Linked DNA regions of Homo sapiens: regions 1 and 2 are each linked to region 3. Evidence: fine-mapped expression QTL. A gene starts in region 3. Each other region holds a variant in brackets. All regions are shown on one strand. Distances are from middle to middle. Region 1 has its middle 37 kb from the start of SLC4A4. Region 2 overlaps RUFY3 (RUN and FYVE domain containing 3). Region 3 holds the start of RUFY3 (RUN and FYVE domain containing 3).

What was found.
Region 1: its variant is fine-mapped to the expression of RUFY3 in subcutaneous fat (TwinsUK, PIP 0.95).
Region 2: its variant is fine-mapped to the expression of RUFY3 in whole blood (TOPMed, PIP above 0.99). The same link has a PIP of 0.9 or more in NK cells and monocytes.

The regions. Positions count from the first base shown.
Region 1 is chr4:71,146,257-71,154,256 of GRCh38, forward strand. It overlaps a transcript of SLC4A4 not described here. Among named protein-coding and RNA genes, the nearest start is that of SLC4A4, 37 kb to the right of the region's middle. The variant G/A (reference allele first, on the strand shown) is at 3,456.
Region 2 is chr4:70,801,592-70,812,659 of GRCh38, forward strand. It overlaps RUFY3 (RUN and FYVE domain containing 3), which reads left to right. Exons shown (of 18, transcript NM_001037442.4): 16 at 1,365-1,392; 17 at 2,757-2,825; 18 at 4,925-7,028. The coding sequence ends at 5,068. LOC124900900 (small nucleolar RNA U13) reads left to right here and starts at 10,655; the gene lies at 10,655-10,755. The variant A/G (reference allele first, on the strand shown) is at 5,345.
Region 3 is chr4:70,715,606-70,726,673 of GRCh38, forward strand. It overlaps RUFY3 (RUN and FYVE domain containing 3), which reads left to right and starts at 6,359. Exons shown (of 18, transcript NM_001037442.4): 1 at 6,359-7,146. The coding sequence starts at 6,969.

The sequences.
Region 1 (8,000 bases), 430 kb after region 3:
TTTGAGTGAGTTTCTTAATTCTGAGTTCTAGTTTGATTGCACTGTGGTCTGAGAGACAGTTTGTTATAATTTCTGTTCTTTTACATTTGCTGAGGAGTGCTTTACTTCCAACTATGTGGTCAATTTTGGAATAGGTGTGGTGTGGTGCTGAAAAGAATGTATATTCTGTTGATTTGGGGTGGAGAGATCTGTAGATGTCCATTAGGTCCGCTTGGTGCAGAGCTGAGTTCAATTCCTGGATATCCTTGTTAACTTTCTGTCTCGTTCACCTGTCTAATGTGGACAGTGGGGTGTTAAAGTCTCCCATTATTATTGTGTGGGAGTCTAAGTCTCTTTGAAGGTCACTAAGGACTTGCTTTATGAATCTGGGTGCTCCTGTATTGGGTGCATATATATTTAGGATAGTTAGTTCTTCTTGTTGAATTGATCCCTTTACCATTATGTAACCACCAGGCCTGCCCTAAAAGAGCTCCTGAAGGAAGCACTAAACATGGAAAGGAACAACTGGTACCAGCCACTGCAAAAACATGCCAAACTGTAACGACCATCAAGGCTAGGAAGAAACTGCATCAACTAATGAGCAAAATAACCAGCTAACATCATAATGACAGGATCAAATTCACACATAACAATACTAACCTTAAATGTAAATGGGCTAAATGCTCCAATTAAAAGGCACAGACTGGCAAATTGGATAAAGAGTCAAGACCCATCAGTGTGCTGTATTCAGGAAACCCATCTCACATGCAGAGACACACATAGGCTCAAAATAAAGGGATGGAGGAAGATCTACCAAGCAAATGGAAAACAAAAAAAGGCAGGGGTTGCAATCCTAGTCTCAGATAAAACAGACTTTAAACCAAGAAAGATCAAAAGAGACAAAGAAGGCCATTACATAATGGTAAACAAACTTTTCTCTCTTTTTTGAGAGAATTACACAGGGGATTAGGAATTATATGAATTTTGTTGTTTAACAAGAAGCCCTCCCCTTTCTCTCCTTTCAAATTTCTCCTCTTAAATTTCTTTATTTTTCTTCCTTCTCCTTTATGTTTGCCTTTTCTCTCTTCCCCTGCTCTTCCTGTCTTCTTTTCATCCTCCTCACCTCTGTCTGCCTTTTTCCCAACTCTCCTTGGAGGTGGTGGTTCATGATGGTCAGTGAGTAATAGGCAGTCAGAGAGATGAATTCCAAAATCAACTGTGGGGAAGCAACCCACACACCACAGTGATGCTTTTCCTTCCTTTCTCCTTGCACTTCTCCCCTGGATGAACCAAGGACTTGGGTTTTTCTGCCAGTGCTCTATGATGGAGTACAGTTGGAGAAGGAGGAAATAGGAAAGAAATGGGGCTTGATTTAATCACAGCAGGGGTTCACTTGTCAGAATATCAAGCTAATTTATAGCATTGTGACATGGAACATCACATTTCAGAACACAGAATTAAAATCAGTAGGATCTCACGGTTGTCCAGGTAGGGTCTTTCTGAGGAGGGGTCCTGAGGGGGCATTGCCACCACCCATCTGCATTGTTGCCAGAAAAATAGCTGTTTACCAGATTTATAAGGCTGAATTTGTTTTGGTTGAATTCCACATGCCTGGTAAATGTACTAGTCTGGCCTGGTTGTCCCGAGGGAGGACAGAGCACACTCCATAAGCTGTGACTCTAGAGGGAACTGGGCTGGTTTCAAGAAAGTCCTGGGCCTGACCAGTGAGCAAGATTTAGTGTTTTCTTCCATGTCCTTCCTTGCCCTCCAAAGTTCAGGTAAGTGACTAGATTCACAAACTTATTTCAGAATGCCAGGAGGAGACTCATGGAATCATAGAAACTTACAACTGCAAGGGACTTTAAAGATCACCGACCCCACTACTGACTTATGTTCCATCTTTCTTCTCTGCTTCTGGCCTCTGCCTGAGCAGTGACAGGGAACTTCCAAGTTCCTGAGATAGCACATCTGATATTTATAATTTTAGAGACAGCTCTGACAATTGGAAAGCTCTTCTTCATATTGAGTCAACATCTCTCTGGGCTAAAGTTTTTCCCACTGGTCTCTCTCGAGCTCTTCTGGGACCTTGTGAAACAAGTCCTGGGTCTGTCTAAAAAGAAACTGGATCTCCAAACCTTCCAAAGAAATTAATTTTCTTTCTTTTTTTAATTTAACTTTTAAGTTGGGGTACATGTGCAAGTTTGTTATATAGGTAAACTTGTGTCATGGGAGTTTGTCATACAGATTATTTTGTCACCCGGGTATTAAGCCTAGTACTCAACAGTTATTTTTTCTGATCCTCTCCTTCCTCTCATCCTCCACTCTCTGATAAGCTCCAGTGTGTGTTGCTTCCTTCTTTGCATTCATGTGTTCTCATCCTTTAGCTTCCACTTATAAAAGAGAGCATGTGGTATTTGGTTTTCTGTTACTGTGTTGGTTTGCCAAGGATAATGGCCTCCAGCTCCATCCATGTTCCCGCAAAGGACATGATCTTGTTCTTTTTTATGGCTGCATAGTATTCCACAGTGTATGTGTACCACATTTCCTTTATTCTAAATACCCCTTGATGGGCATTTGTGTTGATTCAATATCCTTACTATTGTGAATAGTGTACATATGCATGCCTGTGTCTTTATAATAGAGTGATTTATCTTTCTCTGCATATATACCTAGTAAGGGGATTGCTGGGTTGAATGGTATTTCTGTCTTTTGGTCTTTGAGGAATTGCCACAGTGTCTTCCACAATGGTTGAATTAATTTACACTCCCAACAACAGTGTATAAGCATTCCTTTTTCTCTGCAACCTTGCTAACATCTATTATTTTTTGACTTTTTAATAATAGCTATTCAAAGAAATTAATTTTCTAAGGTCCTCTCTAGAAATAGCCTTAGGTCTTGAAACTGACATTAAACAAAGTAGTTGAAGCCAGGTGTACTCAGTGAGTTTAATTAGAATGGCATGATTCTCTTTCTTGAATGTTCTCATTATTTTTTAGAAGATGGCATGAAGGCACTCATTATTATTATTATTATTGGTTTAAAAGTAAAGGCCCCAAAATAGATTCAACAGAGAAAAAAAATTATAAGAAGATTCTTTCCTCCAAATGATAGTCTTTTTCTGGGCTCCTTTCTGATATGATTTTGGGGCATTGATTAAAAAAGGTTATAGAAACAAGACACAGCTCTACTTGATCAAGGAGCAGGAAGTCATAAATTTTGTATATTAAAAGCATTGGGTGTGAGAGGATTAAATTCCTTCAGCTACTGGATCAAACTGGAGAGGAGAGCTCTAAACAACTTTCAGGTGTGAGCAAGAAATTCTGCAAGTCCTCTTAGGTAAGGAGGCACTTTCTACTTTATTTCTCATCATTTATGTGTTCAACAAATGTTTGTTAGGCATCAGTCACATGTTGGGCTCTGTGCTCCAAATATGAATGGGGGCTTAAGGAGGGCCATGTTTTCCTTTTACCTTCTGA[G/A]GCTTTACTTGAAACCAGTTTTGTCAACTGTGCTGATAGGTTTGGATGAGATTCACTGTTTACTAATGGCTTTTCTGTTCTTATCACCATGAAAATGCAGCCAGAGCCAGAGTTTTATTGGCTTACTTTCAACAATGGTAATATTTTTTGATTCATCAAATGGAGCCCCTAAATCCAATTAGCCATCTGGCTTAACTTAATTTTTGATCAACTTAAGTGTGAATTCCTTTTTTTAAAACTAATGTTCTTTATTTTTTTAAAAAACTTAAGCTTTCATTTTAGGCTCAAGGGTACACGATTAGGTTTTTTATATACATGTGAATATACCTGCTTATAATTACTTATCTGTAGTATATGTTCATAAAACCATCTTTAATGCTTCAATACCCCTTGAATTTTATGACTGAAAAAGAAAATATGTTATTAATCTTTGGTATTGTTACAAAAATAAATGTTGAGCCTTGACAATCCTTGGAGTGTCCAAGCAGTGAGTTTCTGTACACATTGATGTTGCCTAGGGAAACAGAGTATCTGGAAACAGAAATTTGGGTTTGGCTGAAGGTGGAATGGGTGAAATAGCAACTGGGTTCTGGGGAGAACCAAGAGCCATATGTTAAGATGTGGTTAGGGAAACAGATGCCCTTCTCATAAATGGAGATGGTCTGCAAGTTGCCTTCCTCTGGGAACCAAGGTTTGGTTTCAGCCAGAAATAGTGGTATGTAAATATCCTGATTCCCTCATGTGCAGAGAGAGAACTAAGCCAGTAAATACAGAGCCTTTTTTAGTCAGCAGAAGGCAAATGAAGACTCAACTAAATGCGTTACCTAAATGGAAATGTGAATTTAGTTTGCAAAATGCTATAAAGGTGCTGCCATTCAGCATGACAAGCAGAAAAGATGATTTAAAAAATGAAATCCTTTGCTTTATTCCATCAAGGCATTCAACTAGCAAACTCTTCATATAAGTGTGCAGAGATGGAAATGGGAGAAGTGCAGGTGAGAGCGCTTGGGATTTGTGACCCGAATTCACCTTTGGCAGCTTGCGGTCCTTAAGTTGCCAAGTGTTCTGGGACCACTATCTCTCTATGGCCTCCCTTCCCCTTTCCATTAGCTCTCTGCATTTTTCTTATATTTTACTTCTATGCGCTCAAAGGTCTGGAATCTGGGGATGTTTGTAGAAGAGTTATGGTTCAATCAGGTATGTTGGGGAAGAAATAGTTTGCTATTTGAAAGACCATGCCTCAAATTGTTCTTGCATGATTTTCATTTCTAATTGTGAGGACATGAAAATATCCTGTGCTGTTCAATACAGTAGCCACTAGCCCCATGTGGCTGTTTATATTTAATTTTAAAGTAATTTAAATCAAATTAAAATTTCAGTGCTTTGGTCACATTAGCTACAATTCAAATATTAAATTGCCACATGGATGGTGAATATTTAGAACATTTCCAACATCACAGAATGTTCTGTGCCACAGCACTGGTAGACTGCGTCTACTGGTTTGCTGCCAACCTCTTCCAATGACTAACATTTGTTGTGTGTTTAACTTAAACATGTATTCCTAATAACAAACATCTTACTCATTTTAATGACATATAGACTATATCAACGGTAGGTTTTGCCCTACTTCTTTAGAGTACTGGCCTGAAGGAACTAATTCAGTGCATTTCTCTGGTTCTGCTGACCTGCTGACCTCTTCTGATGGTCCAAGGTGATCTCTGATGAAGTCTTCATTTTCTCTCTCTGACATAGCCTTTGTCATTTTTACCTTTAATGACATTTAATGTCATTTTTACCTCTACTTATTTACTGTTTTTTAACACCATCTGTTCTTTCCTCTGTTTATTCTTTTTCATCAACTTTTTAGGCCTTTTCTCTCTTCTGCATATTCTTGTGTATATTTTTATACGTAAAAAATATTTCCTGTCTGCGCATGGTGGCTCACACCTGTAATCCCAGCATTTTGGAGGGCTGAGGCGGGAGGATCACTTGACCCCGGGAGTTCAAGGCTAGCTTGGGCAACATAGGGAGATCCCATTTCTACTAAAAAAAAAAAAAAAAAATTAAGGCCGGGCACGGTGACTCATGCCTGTAATCCCAGCACTTTGGGAAGCCAAGGAGGGCAAATCACTTGAGGTCAGGAGATTGAGACCAGCCTGGCCAACATGGTAAAACCCCATCTCTACTAAAAATACAAAAATTTTTATTAGAGGTGTGGTGGTGTACACCTGTAGTCCCAGGTATTGGGACTACAGTGAGCCATGATCATGCCACTGTACTCCAACCTGGGTGACAGAGCAAAACCCTCTCAAAAAAAAATTTTCTTTCAGAAAAGTTTAAGAACTTTAAATATATAGAAAGGGTATATATAATGTGTATCTATAAATAATTTAAGAAAATAATATAAAGTATACTTACATTCTTATCAGCTAGCTAAAGACCTAGAAGACTACTCCTACATTACATGTTTTCTGTACGTCTCTCCTTCTGTATTCCCTTCTCACCAAGTGGTAACCATTATTCTAAATTTTGTGTTAATATTTCCTCTGATCTTTAATACCTTTATTACATATATGCTTATCTCTAAATAATACAACATATATTTTTGCCCATTTTTGAACTTTACATATGTGGAATCATGCTGTGTACATTTTTCTATGACTTGCTTTTTTGGCTCAACATTACATTTGGGGGATTCTTTCACTTGAAATGTTATTCTATGAGACTTAGTTCTTTCACTCGAGATTATGTTTTTGAGAATAATTCATGTTAATATGTGCACATGTAGCTCATCGTTTTCATATCTGTATAATAATCCATTGTTTGAGTATATGCAGCAATTTATTTACTGGTTTTACTCTTAATGGGCATTTGGGTTCTCTGCATTATTTCTTTCACTATTATGACCTGAGGTACTATGGACACACTATTTTTTTCCAATCAGCTTCCTCAGGTTAAAGGACATTCTTACACATCTCTTGACGCACATGTGCATCAGATTCCTAAAATATTTACCCAATGGTGCCCACCCAGGTTAAGGATGGGTCTGCCTTTCCCAGCCCACTTTCTTTGATCTTTTTTCTATGCTTATTTCACCTTCATTTCTCCCCTCATCTCTATACTGCATAATACTCTCCATTTGCTCATTCACTAAATAAAAGGAAGAATTATTTTATCCTCAGGAAAGTGTCATTTTGGATGAAAAGGACTGGTATATATCACATATATATATCCTATATATATGTGTGTGTGTGTATATATATGTAAATATATATGTGTATATATAAATATATATGTGTATATATATAAATATATGTGTGTGTATATATATATATATATATAAAAATAAAAGGAAGTTTATTAAGTATTAACTCACATGATCACATGGTCCTGCAATAGGCCATCTGCAGGCTGAGGAGCAAGGAGAGCCAGTCCGAGTCCCAAAACTGAAGAACCTGGAGTCTGATGTTTGAGGGCAGGAAGCATCCAGTACAGGAGAAAGATGTAGGCTGGGAGGCTAGGCTTTATATTTTAAACAAGCTGGCAGCTGATTAAATGGTGCCCACCCACGTTAAGGGTGGGTCTGCCTTTCCCAGCCCACTGACTTGAATGTTAATCTCCTTTGGCAACACCCTTACCGACACACCCAGGATCAATACTTTGCATCCTTCAATCCAATCAAGTTGACGCTCAGTATTAATCATCACAACTGGCTTCCTGGAAGTACTAGGGAGTGACGAAAAGACAGACCTGGTTTTGAAACCCAGCTCTCCTCCTGTTAGATGTCTCTGGCCATTGGCTAGTCGTTAGTTAACCTCATTGAGCTTCACTTCCTTCATCAGTAAAATGAAGGGTTCTAAAACTTTTTTTCAGAGAGTAGTGTGAAGATTAAATGAAATAACACATGTAAAGCCTTCAGCACTTGGCATGGTACATAGTAGGCACTCAATATGTCTTGGTTTTTTTTCTTCGTCTTTGTTAGAAATAAAATATTTCATTATCTACACTACACCTTACAAGCAAAAGGCCAGACTCGCTGTCTACTTCACCGATTAGTAGCCAGTAAAGAGACAGATGGAAATGTTTTAGGACTTCTACTCATTCTCTCTCAATGCCTCTTATTGACCCTCTACTCCACGCCCTTGTTCTTGTCACCAGTGGGCTGGAAGCACATAATCAGGGTCATCAGTATGTGATGCAGGAGCATCAGTAGCCACCAGTCTAGTCTAGCACACAGGAGAGAGTGATGAGGCAGTGAGGTGAACAAAACAATGTCATACAGTCTTGGATGTTTGTTCAGACCTACCATAATTCAAGACATATGCGGATTTGGAGTAGATTATGATTGGGGAGTTCCTTTCAGGAGAGGTGACCTCTAAAAGGTCTATGCTGGTCATCAGGGCTTGAAAACAGCCAATGTGAGGGTCACTGACAAGGGTTTGCATTTGTTCAAGGAGCTTTGCCTCTACAGACTTGATAACCTTTCTATCTTCCTGGAAATGAGCTTATGGCTATGGCTCTTCAAAGGCTTGGTATTATGAAGGT
Region 2 (11,068 bases), 86 kb after region 3:
ACAGCTGTCCCTAGCCAGGCTTCGTCACCTTAAGAATGAGGTAGTGTGTCATCTGGAGCAAAAGTAGCTGCTGGAGAAGAGAAAACACACAGTCCAATAGTAAGCTAATTATGCAGGTGCTTGGCCTAAATGTCCCTTTCTGGCCTTGCTCCCAAAGAGCATGGTTTGATCCAGAGCTAACTTTAAACTATCACCCATCTCACATTACAGAATGGCATAAGCAAAGAGAAGGGAACTAGAAGGGCCATAAAATTAACCTGGGCTTCCAGGTGCCTTTCAGGGTCAGCCTCGTTCCAAACTAAAATCAAATCATTTACTTGAGCAACCAGGAGTGTCTTAAATGCCAACTTCTGATTTAGGTCCTGAGAATATGGAACAGTGCTTCCTTATATCTGAATTGTGCTCTGCAACTTAGAATTTGTTTCACATTTATTATCTCCTTATGATTCAGTATTCCTTACAAAAGTACCTAATGCAACTTTACAGATGAGAAAACTGAGAAGCAGAGAGGCTGGGTGACTTATCCAAGTTGCCTCTGTTTATCATGTCTACTGTTTTTAAGTCCTTTGGCTCTGCACTACCTATTAGCAACTTCCAGGACTTATTCTGGCCATAGCTGCAATCGTTAGACATACCAGGCTTCCTGGGATTATGATGGCAAGGAACATCGGAAAACCTGGTCACCCCATGGTGTATGTCTGGTGGTCACACTGCTACTCAAGTGAAAAGAATAAGAACCATTGCAATCTGTAGTGCATTTTCCCTGTAACCGAGAGCGGGCTTTGCTTCACCTCTCATTTAGGCTCTAGTCCATGCTGGAACATCGGAGTTAGCTCAGCTTAGTCCCTCATGAAGAAATATTTCAACCTGAATGGGTTTTCTGGTGACAGTCTCATTCATTTCCCCTTCTTGGGTTAATTTGCTAAAGCTCACATCTTAAGAATATTTGGGACTGATACACAACATGTGATAATGGATAATGGATAGATTTCCATAATATCAAATAGAAAAAAAGCTACTAAAATATATGGCCAGTGAACCATTGGAGTTTTACACATTGGGAAACATAAATGCTAACTATTTTGATAGCAAAAAGGAATGTAAAATATAACTTCAAATCTATTTTTAAATGGGAACCCTTATATAATAAGTCAAGGGTCAGATTCTAGTGATTCATTTTAAGAAGCAAAGTTTCCTCTCCTTGGAGGTCAAAATTAATAATTATGTTGTTCTAAGTAATATAAAAGACCTACAGTATTTCTTGTTTGAAAAAAATGTTTGTATTCTGAGCTTTTTATTGAAATGATATAAATGAAAATACATGAAGTTCCTATTTGTCACAATTTTTTACTTCTCCATTGTAGGCTGCAACCCCACCCTATGGATGAACAGGTAACAGAGCCTCCTGTTTCAAAACATCTTGTATGAATTATGAAGTTGGTTGTACCGTGCCTAGCCAGCAAATAAGGTAGCATGGGCGGAAGATGAGTGAATACAGTGTGCCATCCTTCTAACAATACCCTGAACAAATATGTATTGCCTGAAGCTCACACAGGAAGTAGCACAGCTTTGAGCAGTTTACTAAGTAAACATCAGTTCTCACCTATTTTAAATTATCCCTGACATAAGATCTAGGAGAGCTCACTTTATGTCCCTTTCCTCTAGTTTTTCCTTACATAAAATGGAGAGAAAAAAGATGTTTTGATCACTTAGAAATAAGCTAACATAAATGATTGTAAAACACTTTGTTAATCTAATAGTATATGATAAGCCCATGAGAAAGACAGTGAATGCTACTGTGTCTGAGTCACCCTGTCATTTACCTCTTAGGTTATAAAATAAAATAAGTCCTACTGCTTTCCTTTTTTTTTTTTTAAATGGAGATAAGGTCTTACTCACATTGCCCAAGCTGGGGTGCAGTGGACGATCTCAGCTCACTGAAGCCTCAACTTCCCGAGCTTAGGCAGTCCTCCCACTTCTGCCTCCCGAGTAGCTAGGGCTGCAGAGATTAGGTTTCACCGTGTTGCCCAGGCTGGTCTCAAACTCCTGGGCTCAAGTGATCTTCCCGCCTTGGCCTCCCAAAGTGCTGGGATTACAGGTGTGAGCTTCCATGCCCTATGCTTGCCATTCTTTTTTTCCTTTTTTTTTTGAGACAGAGTCTCACTCTGTCACCCAGGGTGGAGTGTTGTGGCACAATCTCAGCTCACTGCAACCTCCGCCTCCCAGGTTCAAGTGATTCCCCTGCCTCAGCCTCCCGAGTAGCTGGGATTACAGGCGCCCACCACCATGTCCAACTTTTTTTTTTTTTAATATATATATTTTTGGTAGAGATGGAGTTTTGCCATGTTGGCCAGGCTGGTCTTGAACTCCTGACCTCAAGTGATCTACCTGCCTTGGCCTCCCAAAGTGCTGGCATTACAGGCGTGAGCCACCAGGCCCAGTCCCCAGTGCTTTCCATTCTTGATGGTAGAGTGAACAAGAGGAATGGGATAGTGTTAAAACTTTTTACTCTATACTTGCATGTGTTTGAATTTTCTTTTTAGAAATCATGTTATTATAAAAATTAAGAGCTGGAAGCATAATGATAGGATTATCCGAGTTGTATTATGGTGGTAGGACTACCTATTTATAATTGGTTTAGTTTCCAGATAGTCTATAGTGTGATTATATTAATATTGTAGGTAAAAAATGCATATTCTGAAAGTACTAATATTTCTGGCACTAAGAAAAACTAACCAGCTCCCTGTGTGGTTTAGGATCAGCTGCTGCTCTCTGAAAAGCCACAGTTGTGTCAGCTATGCCAGGAAGACGGCAGCCTAACAAAGGTAACTGTGATGAGAAACGGACAGGCTTTTCATAGGGATGTCTACAGCAGCCCCCAGTCCCTCCCCAGGAGTAACAGGGACTTTCCCGCATAGAGTGCAGAGTGCATGCAGAGTGCTGGGAGTGGGGTGAAAAGCAAAAGGGGCAAGCATTTACTGGGTACCTGTTTTTTCAGTCATAATAATTCATGTCAGAAAATTCCCATTAAAATAAACATAAATAGCCAGGCGCGGTGACTCACGCCTGTAATCCCAGCATTTTGGGAGGCCGAGGCGGGCCGATCACAAGGTCAGGAGTTCAAGACCAGCCTGATCAACATGGTAAAACCCCGTCTGTACTAAAAATACAAAAAAAAAAAAAAAAAAAAATAGCCGGGCGTGGTGGCCTGTAATCCCAGCTACTCAGGTTGCTGAGGCAGGAGAATCGCTTGAACCCGGGAGGCGGAGGTTGCAGTGAGCCAAGATCACACCATTGCACTCCAGCCTGGGCAACAGAGCGAGACTCTGTCTAAAAATAAGTAAATAAATAAACAAACAAAAATAATTATGTAATAAAGCAAATAAGCAGATAGAAATGTATAAGTAAATATTGAGTGCCTGCTGTGTAGAATGTGCTGGAGAAAGAGTAATGAACAAAGTAGACCAAGTCTCTGTTCTTGTCAAGCTTATGTCCTTCATAGCTGTCATTTTATAGATGAAGAACGTTGAACATCTAATGCTAACTACATTTCCCAAAATTAAGTCATAAGTGATGAAGCCCAGCTTCCAACCTAGCTTTCGCTCCAAAGTCCACAGTCCTTTCAGCACTTTATCCTGCTCAGAACAGGATATGAGCTCTCCCTGCTAGACCACTTGTTTTCCACCCGATCCTCAAGGGTGCCTGCCTGAGCATCTTCCCAGTTTGTTATCCTAGAGTAGGCAGAGTTAAGGAAGTATTCAGAAAGAATGAGTGCCCTTGATAGCTGGAACTGTGTCTTGTTCACAGAATCCCCCAGCATCTAATATGGTACCCAATCCATAGTAGATCCTCAAGAAAAGTTATGTACAAATGAGTGTATGAAACACATGCTTGGAAGAGATACAGGAAACAGGCTCAAATTCTGGATCACAACCTGCATAGCACCATCTGTGATCATGCAAAATTTTAATAAATTATAATATGACCTAGTCTTAAATTCACAGAATCAGATAACAAATGAACTGCCCTTATAGAACTGGAAGTTACAATTATAGAAATATGTTACAAAGTAGAACAAACTGTTAATTCTGGCTTTCCTCTTCTAAGCCATGCAATATTAGCTTCTGTATGTCAGACAAAAATTCTTCTTAGGCTTTCAGATAAAAGCAACCCCCTACTCCTCTCAACCTCAGGAAGATGAATTATTTGGGATGAAGGTAGCACTTCATGGGAGAAATTATTCTTTACAGCTTTTTATATAGGACCCTTGGAGCTTTGTGTATACCACCCTATCACAGCCTTACTGCTGACATTGCTATAGTGACTTCTTGCTCTCTGTGCTTGACCATTAAAGATGCAAAACATTTAGGAAAACAAAATAATTTCCCTATGAACAAGATGCAGGAAGCTGTGCTCCTGCTGCATTGATAACCCAGTGGATGTGCTTACAGAGCACCAGAGACCACAGGAAAGCATAAAGCACATCAGTGTATTTATTAGGAATTATACTTTCAGTTCATACTCTGGACATTTTTAAATCTTAGCCTGTTCACTCAATCCATTGCTCTTTCACTGCCTTATTTGGAGTATGCGCAGGTACTTGCAAACTAATTTTAAAACTAACCTACCTCAAAGTGAGTATGGGGAACAGATGTGTGAAGGATATTCTAAAGATAAGTGACTTGTATGTTACCTGTTTTTATTTTTAACTCTATGGCACTGCTTCTTTTCATTTAAATCTAAAAACTAGACGGTGAACTTTTTTGTAGATTGGGCCTGTGTTCAGATACTACCTGGCACATAGTAAACATTCAGTCATTGTTTGATTAGGCATTGAGCATTTGCCATATTTGGCTTTTTATATCCCATGAATCCTTATGCCTTGCTCATCTTCTATTCCCCGCCTAACCTCCTCTTCTCATAGAATGTGTGTAAGAACTGCAGCGGAACCTTCTGTGATGCCTGTTCAACAAATGAACTGCCTCTTCCTTCAAGTATCAAGCTTGAGCGAGTTTGCAATCCCTGTCACAAGCATCTGATGAAGCAATATTCTACCAGCCCATCATAAGACTGGAGGCCAAGACCTGGACCAAAACGTTTATGCAGGCTCCTCTGTACCTGTGTTTTAGCTGTCAGGATCTCATAGAGCCCAGTTCTTAGAGTCAACTAAAGAGTTGATAGGAATTTACTAGGTCCAGGGAGAAAAGGCAGTGGTTGGGGTTACTGGAAATTTTGCTCATTTTCTCTAATGACTGTATGAATAAAAGTGAACTTACTTGAGCCTTTCTCTTCTAAATCTAAACAACCTGATATTGAAGGTTTGCTTTATAGCATATCTTTGGAA[A/G]GGCAACTCATTTTTATGATTAGTGATACTGGGGTGGATTTAATAGGAGAGAGAATCCAGGCAGATAAGAATAAAAAGGAAAATGATCATCTCCTTCTATAGCATTTGCAGATTCAAGGGGGAGAGGTAGATGCTGAGATCAAAATGACAGTTGTTACTTATTTTTCCAGGTGCTGTTAGTATAAACATTGTTTCCTCTTCACCCCTGCTAACTACCTCTTTAAAGTATTTCTACCAAACTGTGAACCCAATCTCAGGGAAAAGAAATTAAAAAGTAATATAAATTCTGCATATATTAAAAACAATATTGTAATATGTTATAATTTCAGGACCAGAATTTTCTGGTCTTTACCTACAAGGGTTTTCATTATCAAAAAAAAGAACATTTGTTTTTCTACTTTATGACTTCAAAGTAAATAACTGCCCTTTTCAGAATCTCCTTCCACAAAACAAGCCAACTCTTCCCCATTCCCTCCATCTTCCTTTCCAAGTCATAATGGAAATTGTAAGGAGTTTTAAAAATAGGGTTTGGCTTTTGCAAATAGAAGATATTGATTAAAGCAAAGTCAAATATAGAGTAAAATAAGTTTAATTTGTTTTCTTAAGACAGGGTCTTGCTCTGTTGCACAAGCTGGAGGGCAGTAGTGCAATCACAGCTCACTGAATCCCTGTTCTCCCGGGCCTCAAGCAATCTTCCCACCTTAGCCTCCCAAGTAGCTGGGACTGGCTTTTTTTTTTTTTTTTTGGCCGGGGAGGGGGTCTCATTGGTTGCTCAGCCTGGTCTCAAACTCCTGGGCTTAAGCAGTCCTCCCACCTTGACTTCCACAGTGCCGAGATTACAGGCATGAGCCACCACACCTGGCCAAGTTTAATTTGTTCATGGCTGAGAACAGTTAGCTCGGAATACTTACATTGTTTTTTGAATAAGGAATTCCTTATTCTGAGTGAGTCACGAATGAGAGCTGATAGATGCTTTCTTGAAAAGGGCAATACAGTCATCCCTTGGTATCCATGGGGGATTGGTTCCAGGAACCCAACTTGATATCAGAATCCATGGGTGCTCAAGTCCCATTATAGAGAATGGGTTATATGGTATTTGCATATAACCTACATACATCCTCCTGTGTACTTTAAATCATCTGAAGATGATTACTTATACCTAATAAAATACCTACACATCACTTCATTTGCATGGATTCAACATAGTGCTTGGTGTTCAGTAAATTCAAGTTTTGCTTTTTTGGAACTTTGTGGAATTTTTCTTTTTCTGAATATTTTTGATTGGCAGTTGGTTGAAGCCATGGATGCAGAACCCATGGATATGGAGGGCTGACTGTACTTACTTACATATCTATCTATCTTTGAGTAACAAACTCTTTGGGGGAAAAGAGGGAAGTGTATTGAGCAAGAGAAGGCAAAAAACATTACATAATATTTTGATTCTGTTACGTGTGTCTATAGATTGTTTCATTCTAATCAAGACCTAAGAAGGTATGATTCTGTGACTGATTTAGAATTCTGGGGTGGAAATATCCTGGAACCATGTTTTTTAATAAATTCTGTCTCTTGGAAAGAGTTAACAACAGCCTGGGAAAGAGTTGTTATTCCAAAAGTCAGCCTGTTACTTGGTGAAGCTGAAGTTTAAGAGTTCTGGGGAAAAATAAAATCTAGTAATTCCAGCCTAGTTTGTTGATTGATGATTGTCTTTTTTTTTACCCTAAATAACAACATTTCTTTTTTGAATCTTCACTCTCATTTTTTGGCCACCTACATGAGCTAGCACTCTTTTAGGTGCTATACATGATGTGGGGCACAAAAATGGACTACAGGAGTGTTGCCCTAAATTAGAAAGTTATTTTATAACTAATTTTAAATTAATTTGAAAAGATCTTTGTAACACAATATAAGGAGGAACAGTCACTTGATACTTTACTTAGAATTACACATAAATATTAGCCTTAAAAAAATTTAGGCTGGGCGCGGTGGCTCACATCTGTAATCCCAGCACTTTGGGAGGCCAAGGCAGGCAGATCACGTGAGGTCAGGAGTTCGAGACCAACCCGGCCAATGTGGTGAAGCCCCATCTCCACTAAAATAAATTAACTAACTAACTAAATAAATAAGTAAATGCAAAAATTAGCCAGGTGTGGTGGTGTGCACCTGTAATCCCAGCTACTGGGGAGGCTGAAACAGGAGAATCATTTGAACCCAGGACGGAGGTTGCAGTGAGCCGAGATCACACCACTGCACTTCTGCCTGGGCAACAGAGTGAGATTCCATCTCAAAAAAAAAAAAAAAATTTACAACGTCCCAAAGATCTTTAGTTACAGTGCAGCCTCCCATAAAAGCAAGGAGACCAAGTCATGAATACCTTGACTTAATGGTATGCCTATCTGTCTTCCTTTACAATTGTGCTTTTCACCATTTACAATAGTATAAACTGAACCAAAGAGGCAAAGACTTGTACATTGAAAACTTCAAAATGTTGCCATACAAAATGAAGACATAAAAGTATGTTTTTCACCAGGCACGGTGGCCCGCACCTGTAATCCCAGCACTTTGGGAGGCCAAGAAAAAAAAGTATCATATTTTCATGGAGTCAAAGACTTAATAAATATTGTTAAGATGTCAATACTACCCAGAGTAATCTACAGATTCAATAGTCCCTATGAAAATCCCAACATTTCTGCAGAAATAGAAAAATCAATCCTAAAATTCATACAGAATGTCAAGAGACCCCCCCCCCCGATACTCAAAATAATCTTGAAAAAGAACAAAGTTGGAAGTCTTCACTTACTGATCTCAAAATTTAACACAAAACTACAGTAACCAACAGTATGGTACTGGCATAAAAATTAGCATATAAACCAATGGAATAGAATAAAGAGCCTAGAAGTAAATCTTTACACATATAGTCAGATTTTTGACAGGGGTGCCAAGACCATTCAGTGGAGAAAATAGGGTCCTTTCAACAAATGGTGTTGGGAAAACTGGATATCTACATACAAAAAAAAGTTGGACCCTTACACCATATACAAATATTAACTTAAAATCCATCAAGAACTAGCTCCATCCACTAAGGTTGGAAGAAAAAAGAGAGCTAGAATCATTAAACTCTTTAAAAAAGAAGAAAAAGAATTATTGGCCCCGTGTGGTGGTGCATGCCTGCAATCCCAGCACTTTGGGAGGCCGAGGCAGGTGTATCACCTGAGGTCAGGAGTTGGAGACCAGCCTGGCCAACATGGTGAAACCCCGTCTCTACTAAAAATACAAAAATTAGCCAGGTGTGGTGGTGGGCACCTGTAATCCCAGCTACTCAGGCGGCTGAGGCAGGAGAATTGCGTGAATGTGGGAGGCGGAGGTTGTAGTGAGCCGCGATTGCGCTATTGTACTCCAGCCTGAGCGACGGAGCAAGAAAAGACAGAAAAAAGCAGCCTGTCTTTTTTTTCAATCTCAAAAAGAAAAAAAAAAATGGAAAAGCTTCATGACATTGGATTTAGCAGTAATTTCCTGGGTATGACCAAAAGCACAGGCAACAAAAGGAAAAACAGATTGGACTTCAGCAAAATTAAAAATTTGTGCATCAAGGGACACTATCAGCAGAATGAAAAGGCAACCCAAGGAATGGGCGAAAACATTTGCAAATAAATCCTGCAACAATAAAAAGCCTGAAAAAAATGAGCAAAGTACTTGAATAGACACTTCTTGCAAAAAGATATAGAAATGTCCAATAAGTACAGAAAAGCTCAACATCAGTAATCACTGGGGAAGTGTACAAATCAAAACCACAATGAGATACCACTTTATAAACCTATTAAGGTGGCTATTATCAAAAAAGCAGAACAAGTGTTGACAAGGACATAGAGAAGCTGGAACCCATGTATACAGTTGGTGGGAATGTAAAATGGTACAGCAGTATGGTGATTTCTTAAAAAAGAAAAAAAAACAATTAGCATATATAATCCAGCAAATCCATTTCTGGGTATATACCCCAAAGAATTCAAAGCAGGAACTTATACAGATACTTGTACACCAGTGTTTACAGCCCTATTATTCAAAATAGCTGAAAGGTAGAGACAACCCAGGTATCCATCAATGGATGAATGGGTAAACAAAATTTGGTATATGCATACGATTGAATATTATTCAGCTTTAAGAACAAATTCTGACACATGCTACAACATAGATGAAACTTAAGGACATGATAAGTGAAATAAGCCAGTCATACATAGGACAAATATTGTATGACTCCATTTACACTAAGTACCTAGAATAGTCAAAGCATAAAGTAAAATGATGGTTCCCAGGGGCTTAAGGAAGAGCAGAATGGGGAGTCAGTGTTTAATAGGTACAGTTTGTGTTGGAGGAAGATGAAAAATTCTGGTGACAGATGGTGGTAATGGTTGCACAGCAATGTGAATGCACTTAATGCCACAGAAATGTACGCTTACAAATGGTTAAAACAGCAAGTTTTATGTATATTTTACTAGTTTAAAAAAAATTGTGTTTTCCGGAAGGATTCAGAAAGTAATTACAATTATGTGTGTCTATTTGGGTTATTACACAGGCATATATCTCTGTTCACTGAGAGGGCCTAGCAGCAGACATGCCAGCAGCAACGGGTACATCCAATGCCCAGATCTTGTTTTCTAATACCATTCTCCAAGAAAAGGAATCAGGGCTCCCTAGAGAAATGGCTGATTCTGGGTCTAGGGCATCTTGTAGTGCCAGAAAGTAAAGAAGTGTTCCACAAACAAGGATGTAGGCATGTGAAAGGGACACAGGAGCCAACTGATAGAATGCCCAATGGCCAAAGATGAAACAAATCTCAGCAACAAAGTAAATAATGCACCTTAGGATTATAACCCAAAGGATAAAGTAAGTACCCATGAGTCCATGTGTGTATATGACCTGATGGAGCGGTAGCATCTCTCCTATACAGAAAAAGCCCAAATAATTATGTAGATACCCCCCGCCCCTCACCACTTCAAGGAGATAGAGCTTAACTCTCCACCTTTCGAGTATGGATTGTGCTTAGTAACTTGCTTTAAGAGTACAATATGTAAAGAAGAAAAAAAATTTATAGTAACCTGGCAAACACTATCTTGGCCAGGTGATCAAAATTTGTATTAATATAATGAGTGATAAGCCCTATTAAAAATATGCACCCTTGATGTGATGAAAATGCCCCTTTGTGGTCTTCCTCCTAAGACCAGAAGGAAAACAATCAGAAAACCTCACCTTACGAACATTCTACAAAACCAGCTAGTACCCCTTAACACTGTCATGGTCATCAAAAACAAGTCTGGGATCCTTCTGTAGTTCATAAGCGTGACGACTGGGCTTTCACACTTCTGTGTGAGATGTGCCTCCTTCACACCTTGTTACATCAGGACATTACCCATCTGACGTGAAAAAAGTTAAAAAGGTTGGGAATCTGAAGTCATTAAAAACAAAAACATCTGAGGTGGTTAAAGAGACATAACTGAATGTAATTGTGGGATCCTGGAATGAAAATAATATTTGGAAAAAAACTAAAGATCTGAACTGTGGGATTTAGTTAATAGTAATGTATCAAATTTGGTTCCTTAGTTGTGACAAATATCCTGCAGTAATGTAGGATACTAACAATAGGTATACAGGTGGGTGAGGCGTATACAGGAACTCTGTACTCTTTTTGCAATGTCTCTGTAGATCTAAAACTTTGTTTTTTTTTTGAGATGG
Region 3 (11,068 bases):
AAAAAAAAGCTACCCTTTCATGCTAACAGCAACTAGTGAAATAGGGGGAAAATGAGATTTTTCTTCTTAAATTATGAAACTGTGATTCAGGAAGCTGCCAAACAGAACTTTGTGAGCTTTACAAATTTAGTTGCACAACTTGACAAATTTTAGGAAGAAGTTTCTATTCTGCATTATGAAAATCAGAAATAACCCAGATGCCTACCAACATGAAAATGAATCAGAAGACCAGGCACAGTGGCCAATGCCTGTAATCCCAGCACTTTGGGAGGCCAAGGCGGGCAGATCACGAGGTCAGGAGATCAAGACCATCCTGGCTAACCTGGTGAAACCCCATCTGTACTAAAAATATAAAAAATTAGCCAGGCATGAATGGCATACACCTGTAGTCCCAGCTACTTGGGAGGCTGAGGCAGGAGAATCACTTGAACCCGGCAGGTGGAGGTTGCAATGAGCCGAGATCGTGCCACTGCACTCCAGCCTGGGTGACAGAGTGAGACTCCATCTCAAAAAAAAAAAAGAAAATAAATCAGAATGTGTTTTTGTTATTGTTTTTTTGAGACGGAGTCTCTCTCTCTTGCCCAGGCTGGAGTGTGGTGGCATGACGTCGGCTCACTGTAACCTCCGCCTCCTGGCTTCAAGCAATTCTCCTGCTTCAGTCCCCTGAGTAGCTGGGATTACAGGCACGTACCACATTGCCTGGCTAATTTTTGTATTTTTACTAGAGACGGGGTTTCACCATGTTGGCCAGGCAGGACTTGATCTCCTGACCTCAAGTGGTCCACCTGCCTCAGCCTCCCGAAGTGCTGGGATTACAGACGTGAGCCGCCGCGCCCTGCCGAATCAGAAATTTTTTGTACATGCATTGGAACACTACCTTGTAATACAGCAGCCAAAAGGATAAACTACATATGCACACTACGGTTTGGATGAATCTTAGAAAATACAGCATTGAAGGCCAGGTGCGGTGGCTCATGCCTGTAATTCCAGCACTTTAGGAGGCCGAGATGGGCAGATCACCTGAGTTCAGGAATTCAAGACCAGCCTGGCCAAGATGGTGAAACCCCATCTCTACTAAAAATACAAAAATTAGCTGGGCATGGTGGCAGGTGCCTGTAATCCCAGCTACTCGGGAGTCTGAGACAGGAGAATTGCTTGAACCTGGGAGGGGACAGGTTGCAGTGAGCCAAGATCATGCCACTGCACTCCAGCCTGTATGACAAGAACAAAACTCTGTCTCAAAAAAAAAAAAAAAAGAAAAGAAAAGAAAAAATACGCATTGAGTGAAAGGCTTAGAAAGTTTTATAGAGCATGAAACACTTTCTATAAGAAAGTTGAAAAAAACTGAAACTAAACATATTGCTTAGACCTTCATATATTTGTGACAATATTTTTGAAATAAGATAATGATTTACACGAAATTCAGAAGGTTACCTTGAAATGAGAGGCAGGAGTTTAGAAGCAAGAAGGAGCACATAAGTACATATGTTGGTCCATTTCTCCAGTTGAGCAAGGGTTTCAGGGATATTGGTTATATTCTTTAAGGACTTAAAATTATACATTAAGTTTGCTATTTTTAAAAAGCGTACAATGCATCATTTTAGAAAGTGATTCCCCCCTTCATTTATCTTTTTCTATTTTGGAATTTATCAGGTGTTCTTAATGTGTCCAACTAGTATGTAAATGTGGAGGGAACTCAGAGACAGAGTGGTAGTAGGGTGAACCAAGTACATAGTGGAAGCATTTTATCTACCCTTTGTGAGCCCATGACAGAAAAGTCCATACTGGGTTCTCAGTTTGTCAGAATGTGCCCACTTACTAAAAGCCTGAACTTAATATGTAAGTTGGGGGGCCTAGAGGAAGGTATGGGTTGTGCAGCATTAAGGTGTAAAGTATGGAGGCTGATAAAAAAAATTTCTTCAAATCTTAAATTTGTTGAAACTCATCTTTAGGAAATTTCATGAAGAGACTTTGCGTGTGTGTGTGTGTGTTTGTGTGTGTGTGTTTTAAATGTCTTTTTATTTTCTCTGAATAAAATTTAACATCCGGGGATGAGGAAGAGTTAGGATAGAGTGCTGAAGTTGCAGAGTGTAGAAGGAACATGGACTTTGGAGGTATCTAGACAGAAGTAGCTTGGAGTAACAGATCTGCTACTCGCTAATTGTGTGATTCTGGGCCAGTTACGTGGCTGAACTTTGGTTTCATTGTGTATAAAGAGAAGGTATCAATCTCTGTTTTGCAGTGCTTTTGTGAAGACTTGACATGGTATTTTTTTTTTTTTTTTTTTTTTTTTTTGAGACAGAGTCTTACACTGTTGCCCAGGCTGGAGTGCAGTGGCGCGATCTTGGCTTACTGCAACCTCCGCCTCCCGGGTTCACGCCATTCTCCTGCCTCAGCCTCCTGAGTAGCTGGGATTACAGGCACCCACCACCATGCCCAGCTAATTTTTTTGTATTTTTAGTAGAGACGGGGTTTCACCGTGTTAGCCAGGATGGTCTCAATCTCCTGACCTCGTGATCTACCTGCCTCGGCCTCCCAAAGTGCTGGGATTACAGGCGTGAGCCACCGCACCCAGCCCTTTACATGGCATTTGTAAAGCACCTAACAGAAAATAGAAATTTAATAAATGATAGCTATTTTAGGTAATTTTTCCACAATATATAACAGAGACATTGAGCCTGTCAAGTTAACCTTTGTCTTATAGTAGCAGCCGAGTACAAATATCCTTTAAGAGGAATGTAACTTCTGACTTTGAAGTGTGACTCTTATTTGCTTTGAATCCATCATAATGTGGAAAATACAGACTGTTTAAGCAGCTAGAACGTAGTATTTTTTGGATCTTCATTTTGGATTTGAACTTCACACAGGCCTATTCTTTTAGGGCCACAGACTGAACTCCCACCCGCCTCACAACCATCTTACAAATAGGTGCCATTACTCACAAATGGGATCAAATGAGAAAATAGTTCAATACAGCTCATACAGTAATTACTCTGTATGTGAGAAAAAAAATCAAGGTTTGAATATCTTACTGATGGCTTAACTTTAACTTCATATTCAAAGCTAAGATGTTTACTTAGTAAAGACCAAAATGTAAAAACGGTACTAAGCAATATCTAAAATCTTTTTTTTTTTTCTTTGAGACGGAGTTTCACAGGCTGGAGTGCAGTGGTGCAATCTCACCTCACTGCAACCCCCGCCTCCCAGGTTCAAGCGATTCTCCTGCCTCAGCCTCCAGAGTAGCAGATTACAGGCATGTGCCACCACGCCCAGCTAATTTTGTATTTTTAGTAAAGATGGCGTTTCTCCATGTTGGTCAGGCTGGTCTTGAACTCCCGACTTCAGGTGACCCGCCTGCCTCAGCCTCCCACAGTACTGGGATGACAGGCATGAGCCACCGTGCCCGGCCGTAGAATTGTTTTTATAAGTTTCTACAAATAGCACTGTTTTCATAGTAACTTCTTTGCCTGTGAACAATGGATAACTGTTCGTGCTGAAGACTCAATGGTGTTTACCTAAAGAACAGCGTAGAAGTACAGTTTTTCTTGCCCACCCCCGGGTCTTATTTCTGAAATGGCTGCCAACACCTCAAACTGGTAGATCTGGGAAATTCAAGGATACCAATACAGGCATGTTTTTCTTTCCTTGCCAAAAACTTTAGTTGTTTTGGGCTTGCCTCTCTGTGTCCTCTACCTGGAGAGAGGCAGGGTGGGATGGATCTTCCGAAGGAATGTTAATCAAGTTTCTTGCTCACTAACCTTGATGTTCCTGTTGTGTTGGTATGTTGCAATCAATCTAGATCTGTTCAAGTTAGTAAATGCTTACTGGGGTGAAGAGATTGTTGTGGTTTGTGACAAGGCCAAATTCAGGTTTTGGACCCCAGACAATCACATGGCATTCGGATTTATTCATGTATTCCTTGTTCTGTTTTAAGAACATATCAGTGATCTAGAGTTTTGATATCACACATACAGATAGCTAGGGCTGTTTGGAGTTGTGGTTCCAGGAATGTCCCATGTAATTTGAAGGTTTTAATGACTACTTACTATGTTTTGAAGTATTGCATGATATAAAGTGAATCTATAAACTGTCCCCTTATTAATATATAATATGGGAATATTTTTGGCTAGAAAGGAATTGAACTGAATTAAATGAGAATGTGTTAAATGAAGGCTTGTGTTCAGTATTTGGATATGAAAATTCTGTTTCCTGGAAAAGGTGTTTCTGTCTTACTGCTGCGTGCCTAGTGCCTGGATCACTACCTGGCATGTGGAGCACCTCTTAGTGAATATCTGTTGAATGAATGAATGAATGAATGGCTCTGAGTCTAGATGTAGGGTAATGATGAGAGAGAATGAGATAGAAATAAAACCAGGAGTATTTTGCTTTCCTTAGTAACTTACTGATTTTCCCCAATTATAAATAAGCCTATATATATGCCTTCTTACATTGTACCAGTATACCCTCCTTCTTTTTTTTATTTTGAGACAGGGTAGAGTGCAGTGGTATGATCTCGGCTCACTGCAGCCTCTGCCTCCTGGCCTCACGTGATTCTTCCACCTCAGTCTCCCAAGTAGCTAGGACCACATGTGCGCGCAACCATACCTTGCTAATTTTTGTTTTTGTAGAGATGGAGTTTTGCCATGTTGCCCAGGCTGGTTTCAAACTCCTGAGCTCAAGCCATTCACCTGCCTCAGCCTCCCAAAGTGCTGGGATTACAGGCACATGCCACCACATCTGACTAATTTTTGTATTTTTAGTAGAGATGAGGTTTCACCATGTTGGCCAGGCTGGTCTCGAACTCCTGACCTCAGGTGATTTGCCCGCCTTGGCCTCCCAAAGTGCTGGTATTATAGGCATGAGCCACCGCGCCCAGCCATCCGCCCTGTCTTCGTAACAATATGAAAATGCCAGTTTCTCTACAGAATTTGATTATTAGCATTTTTTTCTTTCAGTTCAGTCTCAAATTATGATGAAGCATTTGAGATTTTAACAATATTCAAGGAGAATTTTTTTAGTTTTCAGAAATTAGGTAAATCAAGATGTCCCTCTGATAACAATCCCTAGAAAGGAATAGTCTCAGGTCATATTTCTTGAATTTGTATGTTCCTCCTTAAAATTGGAACCCTTCAATACAAAAACAAACAAACACTTTCTTTCAATTGTCCAAAACATTTTCAAAGAAAATTCTTATTCTTCTCTTTGTAATTTATGTAGTTCATAAAGCAAGTACCTGCCCTTTTGCTACCAAGGTATAAATGCCTCATTGGATAATATAGGGCCGTGTGTGTGTGTGTGTGTGTGTGTGTGTGTGTGTGTGTGTGTGTGTATTAAGAAAATATAATTGTCTTCAGTATCTTATCGAATGGGAGGATTTTAAAAATATAACATGGTTTAATCTGCTTAGAAACATATTTCATGCTTAAGGCTGGGCATGGTGGCTCACGCCTGTAATCCCAGCACTTTGGGAGGCTGAGGTGGGAGGATCATGAGGTCAGAAGTTCAAGACCAGCCTGGCCAAGATGGTGAAACCCCGTCTCTACTAAAAATACAAAAATTAGCTGGGCGTGGTGGTGGGTGCCTGTAATCCCAGCTACTCGGGAGGCTGAGGCAGAGAATTGCTTGGACCTGGGAGCTGAGATCACGCCACTGCACTCCAGCCTGGGCTACAGAGCAAGACTCTGTCTCAAAAAAGAAAAAAGAAAAAAAAAGAAACGTATTTTATGCTTAATACAGAAACTTGATAAATACAACAAAATCAAAAAGGGGGGAAATTGCCATTAATTGGGAAAGATTTTACTTTTTTAACTTGAAGTTTTTTTTTTGCATTTCTGCCTAACCTAAAAGGTCAGGTTTTTGTACCTTGGAGAAGGAAATTATAAATGCCCAAGAATAAGATATTTAAATTGAAAATCTACTTTAGCTTTTCTTTTTATCTTTTTGTTTTTTTTCCCTCTGAGAACCTCAATTTTTTATGCTTTAGCTTTTCTTAAAACATAACATTTAGCATAGTAAAGAATTTTAATAGCTATGTAGATAAGAATGAAAGAGGTGAATTATATGCTTGTTAAATTAATCTAACTGCCTCTTTTACCATCTTTACTATAGATTATTATCCGGTATTAATTGTCATCCTTTTATTCAGTCCTTGATCCCAAAGTAAGAAGAATTGATGAGGATATGTGCATTGTGTTATGTCTGATCACAGTTTGACTAGCACAGTCTGGAAGTGGGTTGTACAGGATGAGAGAGAGAAGCCTAATTGCTCTCCCAGCATCAGCAGCATCTATAAAGCATCCTGGGAATTGCTTGCCCTACGTTCAGAGCAGCTGGTCACATGAGCCTGAATTTTCAGTTCAGTTCATTAGTCAGCCATTTTGGTCAACACCCTGCTTACTGCGCACGGCCAATCCTATGAGAACTCAGCATCCCAGCTCATCTGAGCAGATCCTGGAAGTGATTTCTGCAGCTCAGGATTTTTTTTTTAAGCTACATTGAAAATATAGGTTTATTTTTTGTTCAGGTTTTTCTTTTATATTTTTTTTCTGCACAAAGGAGGAGGATTTTTCACTTACTCATATCGAGGCCAGATTTTTAAAGCCAGCTAAGGCAGCATCAGCTGTGCGGGATTTAAAGCCTATAGCTCAGCTGAAAAAAAAGGTGGGGGGCAGGGAAGGGAAGATAAAAGGAGAGGAAGCTGGGAGAAGACAAGCATCATCTTATTTTGCTATGTGGTAGGAACTGTCTATAAGATAGTGTAGAATTGTTTATCTTGAGCAGTTTGTTCTTAACCTATAAGGTATTTTTCCTTTTTTTTTTTTTTAAACCTCCCCCACCCTTTTCCTGAAAGCTTTGTTTCAGAGCTTTGTATTGGGTTTTTTTGGTGAGGAGGTTGTATTTATTTTTTTGGTGTGTGTGTGTGAGTGTGTGTGTGTCTGTGTGTGTGTTGTGGTCCCAGCTGAGTCATCATGTCTGCTCTGACGCCTCCGACCGATATGCCAACCCCCACCACTGACAAGATCACACAGGCTGCCATGGAGACCATCTACCTTTGCAAATTCCGAGTGTCCATGGATGGAGAATGGCTCTGCCTGCGAGAGCTGGATGACATCTCACTTACACCTGACCCAGAGCCTACCCATGAAGGTATGGTCAGATCCTGTCCGCTAGTATTTCACCAGCATCCTCATTGTTATGGGGGAGGGCTGGGAGGATCAGGGAGAGGTAGAAAGAACCTACACTCTCAACTGTTAACAGTCCTGAAAACCTTGCATCCTTACTTACCACCCAGCTCCCCTTCTCTTGCTCATGGGGGAAAGATAATTTTTTTTCTTGCCCCTTTAGGTATCCTTTCAAAAGATGCTGGATACTCGTTTAGAGTTCTTTGTCTTTAAGCCTCTAAATAAAACATTTGAGGTCACTTATCACATCTGATTCTATTCAATAATGAGAAAGCTATTAATTTTGTTCATATATGAAAATGTTATAGAAATTGTAGTGATTTATAACACTAAGTTAAGACAACATGACTATAATTATAGGATTGTACATGATGAATACAGTAGAAACACCAGGGTATTTGGTAATGGTATCCTCACCATTATATGAGGATACAATTTTAAGCAAGTTATGACATCTAGGAAATGTTTGATAAAACATTTTTTTAACAATATGGATTATTAGGTTAGATGAGAAAATAACTTTTCAGCATTTATTTATTGAATATGGACTCCTAAGAAAGCATAATGCCTGGAAAGGTTAAATATGATTAATATGGCATCCCTATAGATTACAATAGAATGGTAATATTGGAATCTATTGGCCATTGCTTTTTATAAATTATTTGTGGTAACTATTATGATCCATTTGAGATTTCCACTGTCAGTACCTCTGAGATCTTTGTGGTCTCTTGACTTGCGACTTTTTTCCAGGACTCTTGCTAATTTATGAGAGGTTTTCTGCTTCTACCCTTTAATTCTCTTAATACCACAGAAAGAGAGCTGATTTGAATCATAGCTACAAATCGTTTTGTTTTTAATACAGTTGCTTCTTAGCTAAGGTTTATTCTCTGTCCTTATACTGATGAAAAAAAACAAAAAACGCTTGCATATGAGGAGAAATTCTTTATAAACATCTGCCTGATAGTTAGGCACATCGACAGGACAAAGAAGACCATAGGTGAATTGTACCTAGCAGATGGGGTTAGGAAAGGTGATTCTCTGCCTTTGACCTTGAGTTGAAATCTTATCATGACTCAGAATTTTCCCATTGTGTTTGATAAGCATTTTATCTTCCCAGTCAGCCTTAGCCTTGAGAAAGTTTTAGGGATGGTTAATAACACAGAACACAAAGCAGTCATTTTGGGTGTGTCTTTAAGAACAATGTTTAAGTGGTTTTTAAGACCCTTTGCATCTTTTAACAATTGGTTTGTTAATTAGACAGCTTTCTTTGGCTGTATGTTTCGTTATGTGCACAAGTTATAAGACATCAGCTGAAATTCCATGCAATGCCAGTACTATTTATTTTTTATTATTATTTTATTCTATATTTTCATCAAAACATCGTTACATCCAACAATTCCAGTACTACTTAAAACAGCCTCCAAAGCTTTAAAAGTCTTTAGGGAAGAAAAATACAGTTTTAGAAGGCTACCAAGAAGTCTTCTGGCAACTGCCTCAGTTTACATATTTTGTTTGAAAAAAATGTATTCCCGTCCAATTTGAGAGTTATACAATATGAAATATTCCCTTTATCATGAAATCTAGTTTACCAGTGTCTCAAAAATAATTTTTAACAATTTTAACACCTCAAATATATGTTTTTGGAGCAGGATTCCTATGGATAAGCAAAAGTGAGCTGTTTGGTTCATGTAAGCGTTTTTAGCAGCGCCATTTGAATTCTTCATAGAGAAATCTGTAGCAACACATTTCTCAGTATGGAAAATGTGTGAGAGCTATAATCTAAGTAATAAATTGTATGTCTGCTGATTAAAGAAATCAGATAAATACAGAGTTTCCAAGACCTGTAATCAACTATAGAGGATTTGGAAGAAAATAGAGAAATGCCGACAGTGCATTTTAGAATTTTGCCTTAAATTGGGCAAGAAAGCTATTATTTTAAATTACTAGAAATGAAAATAAAGAAAGCATAGTCCCATGAAAGCCTGTGAGTATTACTGCCTTGCTCCATTACCAAACTCTGGATATTTAAACAGTCATTTGGTCCCAAGAAATACCCACTTTTATGTTAATACCACTGATAGTTATTAGATTTAATTTAGCTATAAGCATTTAAGTGGTGGTCACCAGGCCCATGATTATGTGAATCTCACCTTGTTCACAAAATGGAACTCCTGATGTCTGGACGCGGGAGTATTCAGACTGCTTTCCGGGCTGATTCACAGAGGGAAAAACATCTGACCACCCAAATCCTAGAGTGAAGTCTCCTCACTCCCACAAAAGAAAATAGGCAAACAGCATAATGTTCCCTCTTAAAATGATGTAGACTGACTGTGTGTACTCAGCAATAGAGGCTCTGTGGCTTCCATATTTTATTTTCTTAAAACCAGAGTTCCTGGCCCTTCACTGAGCAGTCCGCAGTATAGGCCTGGACCTAGAGTTTCTGCCTACTTTAACCCTTAAATAAATGAAAATAAAAGCATTCACTTCATTATCTCAATGCTTATTGGTGGTCAATGAGGGATTATCTCTCTTTTGTCTTATATACTCTTTTTTTTTTTTTTGAGACAGAGTTTTGTTCTTATTGCCCAGGCTGGAGTGCAATGGCGCAATCTTGGCTCACTGAAAACTCTGCCTACCGGGTTCAAGCGATTCTCCTGCCTCAGCCTCCCAAATAGCTGGGATTACAGGCATGCGCCACCACACCCAGCTAATTTTTGTATTTTTAGTAGAGACGGGGTTTTTGCATGTTGATCAGGCTGGTCTCGAACTCCCAACCTCAGGTGATACACCCTCCTTGACCTCCCAAAGTGCTGGGATTACAGGTGTGAGCCACCATGCCCGGCTTATATACTCTTATTTTCAAAAGCCAACAGCAAATCTACAACAAGTTTAATTGCAAATAGATTTCCCCTAAAGGCAAGAGCCTGTGATTGACTCCACAGGAGAAGGGTCAGGAGAGGCTTCATTAAGTGAGACCTTAAGAGATAAACAGGTGATCACCAGACCGACATAGGGAGGGCATTTCAAACAGTACACAGTGAGCTGGCCCAGCCAGGGAATAGCAACAGGAGCACAGAGGGCTTCTGTTTGGCACAACAGGGAGCAAGACTGGAAAGATAAGCAGGGGCTTGACTGTAGAAATCTTATTCATACTGAAAAGCCTGCACTTGATTCTGTAGTGAAAAGCTACTGGTGCTTTATGTCTGGGAGTAACATAAAATAAGATTTGTGTTTGGAATGATCACTCTGGCAACAGTGTAGTGAATGGATCAGAAGGATATAAGCTCTCAGGGACCCCTAACTATAACTTTTAAAATGGTCTGGGTAAGAGATGACAATCTCACATTAAGGTAGCAAGAGTGAACACCAAAGGAACAATCCCTGGAAAAGCAGAATGTACCCGATGACTGAGGGGCTGGGTGGCTGGAGAATGAACATAAGGCAGTGCCTGGGATGACTCTCCAACTTCTGGCTGCAGAAGCTAGGTTCCCTTTACCAGTAGGGAATATAGAAGGAAGAGAACATTTGAGTTGTTGATGCTTAATAGATTGTGACTAACAAAAGCACTACCATCACTCTTTTTTTTCTTTTTTTTGAGACAGTTTCGCTCTTATTGCCCAGGCTGGAGTGCAATGGCGCTATCTCAGTTCACTGCAACCTCCACCTCCCAGGTTCAAGCAATTCTCCTTAACTCAGACTCTCCAGACTCCCCAAGTAGCTGGGATTACAGGCATGCGCCACCACGCCCAGCTAATTTTGTATTTTTAGCAGAGACAGGGTTTCTCCATGTTGGTCAGGCTGGTCTCGAACTCCCGACCTCAGGTGATCGCCCGCCTCAGCTTCCCAGAGTGCTGGGATTACAGGCGTGAGCCACCGTGCCCCGCCCA